Regions from separate parts of the Homo sapiens genome. Here region 1 is linked to region 2. A link means that fine-mapping ties the variant in region 2 to the expression of a gene that starts in the linked region. Tissue or cell type: tibial nerve. Region 2 holds a variant in brackets; the other region holds the start of a gene. All regions are shown on one strand. Distances are between the middles of the regions.

Region 1 (5,385 bases), 72 kb after region 2:
AATTATCTAAATAAAGAATATCCACCAAAACTAAGGTAAATACAGAAAAAAACTAGAATGTATGAAAATTAACTGCAATGAAAATGCCATTTCCAATGTTTGTTAAATAAGTTTTGCCATCACCAATAACTATTTATTATCAGGCTTTGCTAGTGCATTCCTCATTCATGGAAGGAATATAATAGATTTTTGAAAAGTTTTCTAAATGTTTAGGGTATGAAATGGCAGTATACTCATGAGTTATATGCTAGTAGTCTTAAAGTAATTATGTCCCTTAAAGTTGCAAATTTACTCAGAGTAAATATAAGGTTGTTAAGGATAAGCTGAATATTTTAAATTAATCCTTTGCCAAGGCTTATTTTCATGCTTCAAGTTCACAAATAATAAATCCAAGGGGAGAAAAAAGCCATTGCCAAAGCACTCTTCAACATAAAGCAACCATAAAAATGTATCCTTTACAATGTCATTTACATGTTTATAAGAAACAAAGACCCATTAGGAACAATATATTTCAGCAATCCAGAAAGTTTCTTCCGATTATTAGTCTGAATTTTTCAGATCCACCATTCATAAAAAGGTTCTATCAGGAATTAGGAAGTAAATTTTCAGCTAAGTCAATTAACAGCAAATATACCAGCTGTTTTGCATTTTCACTATATTAACCTTCCTGGTGAGAGTAGAATTTACAGCACTTAGTAGGAACATTGCATCTAAAGGCATTTCGTCCTACTCTGAATGTCAAGAGCTCTTAGAAACAAAAGGAACATTAATAAACGAATATGCAGAGGAAAATACCCTCAAAGAAAATCTTTTTTCAACTTCATATAAAATAAATGATTAAAGAACAGCATGAAGACTGCTGACTGAAAGCATGAATAAACATTTCTTTTGTACATACCACTTGAAAAATGTCCTTACCATATACTCCATATTAGAGGCTGTTGGATACACCTGACTTCGTAATTTATTATGAAGGTCCAAAATACTCTGCATGTCATTGTCTGTGATGGCCCTTTTCCCTCGTTGTTTGGCTATCCACCACTCACCATCCTCATCCATGTATTTTTCCAAAAGTTTCTCCAATAAAGTGGCATTGGGAACCACCATGGCTGGAATTGCTCTAGCCATGAACAGCACTGTGGTTACTCTGAGCCACTCCCGCGCGGTACACTTCATAATGAATGACCTCAGGATTTCCCCAGGAAAATCTCCAAGACAGGCTCTTCCACTCCTTTTGGCTATAACGACATGTCATGTGATTAAGATGAAAATTCCAGCAGATATGAATTTTCTAATAACACGAGCAAAACAACAGTTACAAAGGAAGTGTGCCAGTTTGATTTGTCTATTTAACAGCAGAAAATGGACACTCACATTTTGAAATAACTTATCTCCAACCCATTTTTTTTCTTCCAGAGGACTTTTCACAATGCAATTTCCACAAACTAGACAACTGTATTATCCAAGATAATACCCCTGAGGCCAAAAGTAAATGGCAAAAGTAGCCTAGAAGAGTCAAAGCTTGAAAATACTATGTGAATTGCAAGACTTTAAGTGGCTATACATTACATATACCCTGCAAAGGATGTTATATCTACCTAGAACGTTTGATTTCAATCTAGAGGTTCATGTTTCTCTATGAAGAGTTTTAAGGTGTGAATATTTTATTTGGTATTATTTTATTCCAGTGGCCCATCTCTGTTTCACACTCAGAATGTCCACAGCATTCTAAAATTGAGAGTGAATGTTTCAAAGAAATACAAAAGGCTATTCATATATGCATCCATGGCTACATCTAGGGGGCCCCGTGAACTACTGCAAATGAATGGTTTGGGTTCCTGGGGTAAGTCTCTTCCTATTCAGGCTCAGGTCAAGAACTCAATCTTTATTTCCTGGAAAGTCTGTGACTAATCTGTGGCCTGCACCCGAAGAAGCCAGCAGCTCCCCGGCAACTTGAGAGCTTTTCCTCTCAAGTGTGAAGGCACACACTGTTCTTTCTCTGAACTCAAATGGAAAGCGCGCGACAGAGAAAGTAGGTGAAACCAACAAAGTCACTTACAAGAACTAGAGCTCCCGCTAATTTCTATCGTCGCTGCTTTCCGGGTAGCCCACCCACCCATCGCGCCCAACCACTCTGTACAGTTGGCTTTTTTTTTTTTTTAAGTACAGTTTAAGAAGGCAAAGGGAGATAGGAAAGGGTGGCAGCTTGACGACTCAGCGATGCATTTTAGAATCGCCCTTACCTCTCCAGTGTGAAGTTTCCTGGGAGAGGTGAGCCAAACCGGACGGCCGGCCTCTGCAGCCGCCCAGAGCCTTCACAAGGGACCGCAGACGGAGAGCCCCGCTCGCGAAGGGCCTGAGCACCGAGCGTCCGGGGGCGACGTGGGTGCTGACTGCAGGAATACGCGAGCCTCCGCCTCTGCGGCTCCCTCAACCTGGAAGAAATGGCAGGCAAAGCGTCCAAAATTAGACCTGCAGTTGGGGTGGGAAGGGAGCTGCTTCGTTAGTCTGCCAGGGTGGGCGCCCCAGCGTTTCTGAGCAGTAGCTGCAGGAGCGAGGGGCGGGGACACGAACGAGGCTCGGCGGCGGAGGCTGGCGGCGACCTCTTGCTCCTGCTCCGTACAGCCAGTACGCGCAGAACCAGGCGCCTAGCGCTTCCGTCGCTCTCTCGCGTTCGCGAGCATTTATTGCGGCCCCAGCGCGGGCACGTGACTTGAGCGCCCCTCCTCGCCCACCCCCACCTCCAACCAGCCGTGGCCAGAGGCCCGCCAGATCCGGGAGAAGCAGCCCGCCCTGCTTCTCCGGAACGCAGCGAAGCCAGGGCGCTCGGCCTTTGTGGGCGTGCTTTGGGCTCCCGAGACCCAAGCCCGGAAGGTCTGGCCCCTGGTGGGAGATGTGTGCAAGGAGGGCCCCAACCCCCCTCAGTCCTCCCAGCTCCCCTGCATTCAAAGATCCTCCTCCCAGTCAGTTCCTTTCTGCTGAGATGCTGAAATGCCTTTAAGGGTCCTTACAGACGAGGGGCTGCCCCATAGAGCATGGAGTGGGTGGGGGATGGGGATAACACCTTCAATCTTGGAGGCACAAAAGGGGAAATAGGGGACGAAATGGAAAAATACTTTTCCTTTTATTTTTCCCAGGGGTCCGCATCCTTGATGAGGACCAGATGGGGAAGATGTTCAATAGAATTTGGGGTCAATATGTGACTCAGAATGGCCTGACAGTTGAGACCCCCTCTTTATTCATAAAATATGAGGCATTGTCTTCTCAAGGTGGCCATAGCACTTTTTTTTCTGATGATGTATACATTTAAGGAGTTGATATAAAGGGTACCATTAATTTATCAGGGATTGTTGACAGGAATTGAAACCCCAGCGCTAGAATAGGTAGTGAAAGGAGAGGCCGTTCCTTTGTTCATGTTGTAATCTGGGGTAAGAAAATTACTAATTTTAAATTCACAACAGCTTACCCTACCAAGTGTGGGGCTGTTTTTTATTTTTATTTTTAATTATTTAATCCATCTATGTTTGCTTCCCTAATGTGGTGAATCATAGTCTCAATTTTCCTTCTTTCTAAATGCTAGAGTATCTAGCATATGATCAAATAAAGTACAATATTATGGTAGTAACTCAAATCATCCCAAGCTGTTGCCTGTCTCTTTCCACCATTCAACTACACCATATCTATCAAACCTAAAAACTCAACTCTAAGCCTCAGCTGGAGGTGAGACCTTGCTTCCTGTCACAAAGAAAAGGGAAGCATCACTTATTAGAAAGGTGCAGAAGGTGAAAAGTTTTGATGCACATAAGACTTTTATAGAAGTGTAATTTTGCAATTTTTTAGCAGTTTTAAGTACAAAAAAGTTCTTAACTTTGTATTTTTCAAATAACTATTCATAATTTCCATGCACAGGGTTGAGAAAACTGGCTTTCCCTCTTAGAAACTGATAGAAAACCTCCAAAGTTTATGGTAAAAGAACTATCATTTGTTACAGCAGATGAAGACTATGTTTTTATACTGCAATGTCCATGTGGCATTGAAAAGTATACTGAATATTGAATAAAGAGCCATGAAAGTAATAATATTACTTGAAACATTTGCAAAGAGAATTCAAATTAGGAAGAAGGGAATTAAAATGATAGGGAAGTGAAGTTAAATGAATTTGTAACTCTTGAATATTTCAGTTATAAACATTCTTACACAATGTATGAATCCAACACCTAAAGGCTCACATTAAAGAAAATAAAAATTGTTTTAGGTCTTTAATTCCAAATCTTTCTCTAAACAAGGAAAAAAATCCTTTGACTCAGCATTTCTTTTGGCTTCCAATTTGGGTACTGCAGGTGATTTAAGCATTCATCATGTTAGCATTTCAATAATACATCTTGTCATTCCTGATTGAGTATATATGTTGGAAATGCCATTTTGAACAGTAAAATCAAACACAATATTCTTGAATACTCAAAGATGATACTGTTCACGTTTTTTATTTGTAGTTGAGAAATCTGTGTGTAGACATAAGAAAATGTCTTCTTCACACAGAATTCACGTAAAAGTGGCACTTTGGTTTGTGGCTAAGGCTGTTACTTGTAAAGCCCTGGTTGTTTTTAGCATTACTACTTTCTTGTGGCAAACACTGGTGGTTGCCTAACCAACAACCAGCCTTCCACCCCTTTCTTCCTTCCAAGCCCATAGCCTCCAATTTACCGGGGATATCCACCCTCTCACATGCTGTCAAACTGGCATCTTCAAGAGGCGAATGTTGATTAGTCAAAGCCAGTCATCACAATCTATCCCTGCCACCAGTGACTGATTTAGCATGGGCATGTCATGCAGCCCTAGCTGTTGAAAGGAAGACTTGGGGGTAAGGAGGAGGGTTGGCAAGGGTTTTCTTCTGTAATAAAAAGAGATGCAAAAAGAGAAAATGTCTCCTTAGGTACCAGTGTGTAAGTCTGTGAAACTGAAAGATGCAGCTCTTACTTTGCAAAGAAGACAGACAAGCCTGAGGGCAGAAACCCATTACCCTGGCCAAACAAAAAGACCAACTGGGCCTGACTCTCCCTGCCATTGACCAATCACTGCAACACCTATCTTCCATTTTTCTTGCTAAAATAAATAATGAATGTTTAAATCACAGTGACTAGGGTATTCAGTTACGTGCACCACAAAGCATTCTAACAAGATACATTTCTACAAAGAGGATACATTTTTCTGTCAATATCATATTTTTTCCATGTGGCTATTATTGTCTGCTTATGTGCATAGTTATCTTTAAATCTATTCTTATGTGTTTTCCTATCCTTGAATTTGCAAAAGTGAGTATATATAGACATTTTGTTCACTGTTATAATTTCATGACTCCATGTCTGTTCTATCACCACTTTTTTG
Region 2 (5,385 bases):
AGGGATTCAACTTCTCCCTGGTTTATTCTTGCATAGAGGTGTTTACAGTATAGTGTTCTCTGATGGTTGTTTGTATTTCTGTGGGGTCAGTGGTGATAACCCCTTTATCATTTTTTATTGTGTTTATTTGATTCTTTTCTCTTTTCTTCTTTATTAGTTTAGCTATCCATCTATCTATTTTATTTTATTTTATTTTATTTTATTTTATTTATTTTATTTTTTCAAAAAACAAGCTCCCAGATTCATTGATTTTTTTGAGGTCTTTTTTCACCATCTCTATTTCCTTCCATTCCTCTCTGATTTTGGTTATTTCTTGTCTTCTGCTAGCTTTTGGGTTTGCTTGCTCTTGGTTCTCTAGTTCTTTTGGTTGTGGTGTTAGGATGTTGATTTGAGATCTTTCTAGCTTTTTGATGTGGGCATTTGGTGCTATCAATTTTTCTCTTAACACTGCTTTAGCTGCATCCCAGTGATTCTGGTATGTTGCCTCTGTTCTCATTGGTTTCAAAGAACTTCTTGATTTCTACCTTAATTTCATTATTTACCCAGGAGTCATTCAGTAGCAGGTTGTTTCCTTTCTATGTAGTTGTGTGGTTTTGAGCGAGTTCCTTAATTTTGAGTTCTAATTTGATTGTGCTGTGTTCTGAGAGACTGTTATAATTTTGGTTCTTTTGCATTTGCTGAGGAGTATTTTATTTCCAATTATGTGATCGATTTTATAGTAAGTGCCATGTGGCACTGAGAAGAATGTATATTCTGTTGTTTTTAGGTGGCGATTTCTGTAGATGTCTATTATGTCCACTTGATACAGAGCTGAATTCAAGTCCTGAATGTCCTTATTAATTTTCTGTCTGATGATCTGTCTACTATTAAATTTTCCCACTATTATTGTGTGGGAGTCTAAGTGTCTTTGTAGGTCTCTAAGAATTTATTTTATGAATCTTGATGCTCCTTATTGAATGAATATATATTTAGGATAGTTAGCTCTTCCTGTTGAATTGATCCCTATACCATTATTTAATGCCTTTCTTTGTCTTTTTTGATCTTTGCTGGTTCAAAGTCTGTTTTGTCAGAAACTAGGATTGCAACCCCTTTTTTTTTCCTGGTTTCAATTTGCTTGGTAAATTTCCCTCCTTCCCTTTATTCTGAGTCTGTATGTGTCTTTGCATGTGAGATCAGTCTCTTGAATACAGCACACCTATGGGTCTTGACTCTATCCAGCTTGACATTCTATGTCTTTTAACTGTGGCATTTAACCCATTTACATTTAAGGTTAATATTTTTATGTGTGAATTTGATCCTGTCATCATGATGCTAGCTGGTTATTTTTCAGATTTGTTCATGTAGTTGCTTCGTAATGTCATTGGTATTTGCACTTAAGCGGAGGTAGTGGTTTTTCCTTTCCATATTTATTCATATTTATTATTTTCCTTTTTTTTTAAGTCACACATGAGTTTTTATTAAAGTCATATACTTACATTTTTAAAGCAAATATATTGACTAGTTCTTCTGAAAAATTGCTTGAAAAATGTAATTTTTTTTTTTTTTTTTTTTTACTCCACCAAATATTCTAGTTAATTTTTTTTTTCTATATTTCTTTCAGGAGCTCTTGCAAGGCAGGCCTAGTGGTGATGAATTCCCTCAGCATTTGCTTGTCTGAAAAAGATTTTACTTCTCCTTCACTTATGAACCTTAGTTTGTCTGGATATAAAATTCTGGGTTGGAAATTCTTTTCTTTAAGAATGTTGAATATTGGCCCCCACTCTCTTCTGGCTTGTAGGGTTTCTGCTGAGAGGTCCACTGTTAGTCTGATGGGCTTCCCTTTGTAGGTGACCTGGCCTTTCTGGCTGCCCTTAACATTATTTTCTTCATTTTGACCATGGAGAATTTGATGATTATGTGTCTTGGGGTTTATCGTCTCATGGAGTATCTTACTAGGGTTCTCTGGGTTTCCTGAACTTGAATGTTAGCCTGTCTTGTTAGGTTGAGGAAGTTCTCCTGGATTATATATTAAAGTATGTTTTCCAGCTTGGTTTTGTTCTCCCCATCTCTTTCAGGTACCCCAATTAGTCATAGGTTAGGTCTTTTTACTTAATCCCATAGTTCTCAGAGGTTTTGTTCATTCATTTTCATTCTTTTTTCTTTAATCTTGTCTGCCTGTCAGACAAGATTTCAGCAAGATAGTCTTCAAACTCTGAAATTCTTTCCTCTGCTTGGTCTATTCAGTTATTGATACTTATGGTTGCATTGTGAAGTTCTTGTGTTGTGATTTTTGGCTCCATCAGGTCATTTATGTTTCTCTCTAAACTGGTTATTCTGGTTAAGAGCTCCTGTAATGTTTTATCATGGTTCTTAGCTTCTTTGCATTGTGTTAGAACATACTTCTTTAGCTCAGCAAAGTTTTTTATTATCCACCTTCTGAAGCCTACTTCTGTCAATTCATCCATCTCAGCCTCAGCCCAGTTTTGTGCCCTTGCTGGAGAGGTTTTGTGATCATTTGGAGGAGAAGACACACTCTGGGTTTTTGAGTTTTCAGTGTTTTTTTTTCATTGATTCTTTCTCATATTCATGAGTGTGTCTAACTTCTATCTTTGAGGCTGCTGAACTTTGCATGGGCTTTTGTAATTGTAATAGGCCCTGAAGATACCACTGATCTGATTTAATGAAAAGTATAAAAATTATGGAGGTAGAAACTATAGTTATAACCAAAGGCAAAAGTATAGAACACCTAATATCACACCTGTTTTTCAAACTGGACTATTTAACTAACAAAAAAAAAACTTTACACTTTATATGGAAATATAAACATGTGTGACTAGCTAGAAAATTTGTTAGAAACATAAGTAATAAGCTGCATCAAGCGCTAAAATATATCACAAAGCAAATCAATAAAAAATGTTAGTATTGGATGAGTAACAAATCAGTGAATCAGAAAACAGGTCCAATAATTATATCAAATATTTCTGAAAATTTAGCTCAAATGTGGCAACATTTTCAAATTTATTTGGAAAAGTTAGATTATTCAAAAAATACTGTTAGGAAAAATGGGCAGTCACTTGGAAAAATATAGTTGAATTTCTCCTTCCCTCAGTCCT[TCTA/A]CCAAAATAAGTTTTAGATTGGGTTAACATTTGAACATAATCAATACAAACTTTAAAGTACTTTTAAAAAATTGAAGATTTTTTAAAGCATGCTTGGAGTAAGAATGGTCGTAAATAAGACAAAATTCAGAAATTACCTTTTAAAATATTTGCTAGTTAACAACATACAGATACAAAATTAAAAGTGAGAAGAAAAATGACTGGGAAAAGTGCTTGAAATTAATATGCAAGTATTTATTTTTTAACTAGATAGTGTAGCATAATAGTTAAGAGTTCATACGTGTGTTTGCACACCTTCACAAACACATGCAAAGATATGCGTATGTGTGATTGTAAATGCATACCAAAGAAAGAAAGAAAGAAAGAAAAAGAAAGAAAGAACAGAAAAGAAAACAACCAAATACAAACCACTTAGTAAGAAATAGCATGTGAAAAAATTAAAATGCCAAAGCAGAGATGGCAGTAGCCACATGGTTGTTGGAAGAGAAGCTGGAGTTCAGCCCCAGCCACATGGGTGCCTTTGCTAAGTACCTAAGGCTTTCAGGCCCACAAAGGCTATGCTCTAATAATAAGGCTAAACCCTGGGAATAAGAACAAAAGTAAAATATATAGCCCTAACAAAGCCTGAAAGCCTTAATAGCACCAAAGTCATATATTGGTGCTCAATCTCTTTTCCACAAGAAAATTTAGCCCACCCAGAGGAAGATGACATCATTTAAAATCTCTGTGATTTTTCCTCCAATCCAAACATATAAGGCATAAAAAAGAAAAGAAAAAAATGTGAAAAAAAATCAAGAGATAAAATAAACAATATAGAGAAATCTACAAGTTAATTTAATATTTTAAGTACCAGTTAGTTATCAGTCAGGTTGGCAAAAACTAAAGATAAAGAGAAAATTTTAAGAGCAGCTAAAGAAAATGACAGTTTGTGTCCAAATAGATAATTTTTCCATGGACAGGGGACAGTTGAGGGGAAGATGGTTGGGGGATGAAATTTTCACCTCAGATCATCAGGCATTAGATTCTCACAAGGAGCCACATGAGCAGTTGGATCCCTCACATGAACAGTTCACAATAGGGTTCATGCTTCTATGAAAACTAATGCCACTGCTGATCTCATAAAATGTGGAGCTCAGGAGGTAATGCTTGCTGGCCCGCTGCTCACCTCCTGCTGTGCAGCCCTGTTTCTAACAAGCCACGGACCAGTACTGGTCTCCTACCTTATACTTATTCTAAAAAGCATATTGTCATAGAGAGTTGATGCACCTTAGATTAGGCTGTCTATATATCTAATGAAAAAGATGCTGTCTGTGGGACAGGAAATGATTAAATAAGAAAACAGAGTCTACAGTCATATTTCTAGAGTTCAAATCCTAGCTCCAATATTTATTTTCTGGGTGGATTTGAGGAAGTTACTTAACTCCTCTTACCATCTATAAAATGAACATGACAGTAACAATACTTTTCTCATTGAGTTGTGTGGATTGTGTGAATTTGTGTATGAACTGCCTAGGACAGTGCCTGGCACACAATAAGAACAATATGAAAACAGCTATAATTAGTATTACTTATAATCACATTTGATAGACTTATGAGTATTTCACACAGACACAGTTTTCTGGCAGCTTTTTAGTATCTTAGTGACAATGTATATGTTAAGATAATTTTTACTTTTTAGAAAATAACTTCTTATGAAACAAGCAAATGTTTCTAAATTGATACATTAAGCTATCTGATTAAGTATTTCTTATTAATGAGGTGCACACCATTATATTTAGACTGCTTATACTCTAATCACTGATTTTTGATACTTTTTGAAGTTTGTGAAGATGTACTAAAAACATTGAGGTATCAGGACTCTAACATTTGGTTTTATGTCTTATTCTTGGCTTTATCTCAAGGACATATAAAATATGATTGGAAGTCTAAATAAATTATTTTTTATTAGTCACAGCTCTATGTAATTTTGGCAAAAACAGGGCATCTTCAACTTTTTTGATTCTGCAAACCAAGGGAATGAAAGGCAGATTAGATGAACACTAAAAGATTTTTTTCATACACTTTCAATCTATGAGAAATGTAAATTTATACACTTATTGAAACTCACACACAACATATACAGAGGTTGTCCAGCTATAGTTCTCAAAGTATCTGAAGATTTTAGTTTTGTATTGTCAATTAAAGCCATATCAAAGTTATGAGATGATTTCTAGCACATCTGTTCTGGGTAATACTATCATAATTTTTCCCTCTATTAAACATTATTTCCACAGTGCCAGAGCAATCAGTC

The links. PIP is the estimated chance that this variant, and not a neighbour inherited with it, causes the effect.
Region 1: it holds the start of CRISPLD1, and the variant in region 2 is the best candidate, but not a certain one, in a credible set for the expression of CRISPLD1 in tibial nerve (GTEx, PIP 0.56).

Annotation. Positions count from the first base shown.
Region 1 is chr8:74,981,779-74,987,163 of GRCh38, reverse strand. CRISPLD1 (cysteine rich secretory protein LCCL domain containing 1) reads right to left here and starts at 2,659. Exons shown (of 15, transcript NM_031461.6): 1 at 2,244-2,659; 2 at 919-1,238. The coding sequence starts at 1,176.
Region 2 is chr8:75,053,895-75,059,279 of GRCh38, reverse strand. No RefSeq gene overlaps it. Among named protein-coding and RNA genes, the nearest start is that of CRISPLD1, 72 kb to the right of the region's middle. The variant TCTA/A (reference allele first, on the strand shown) is at 3,093.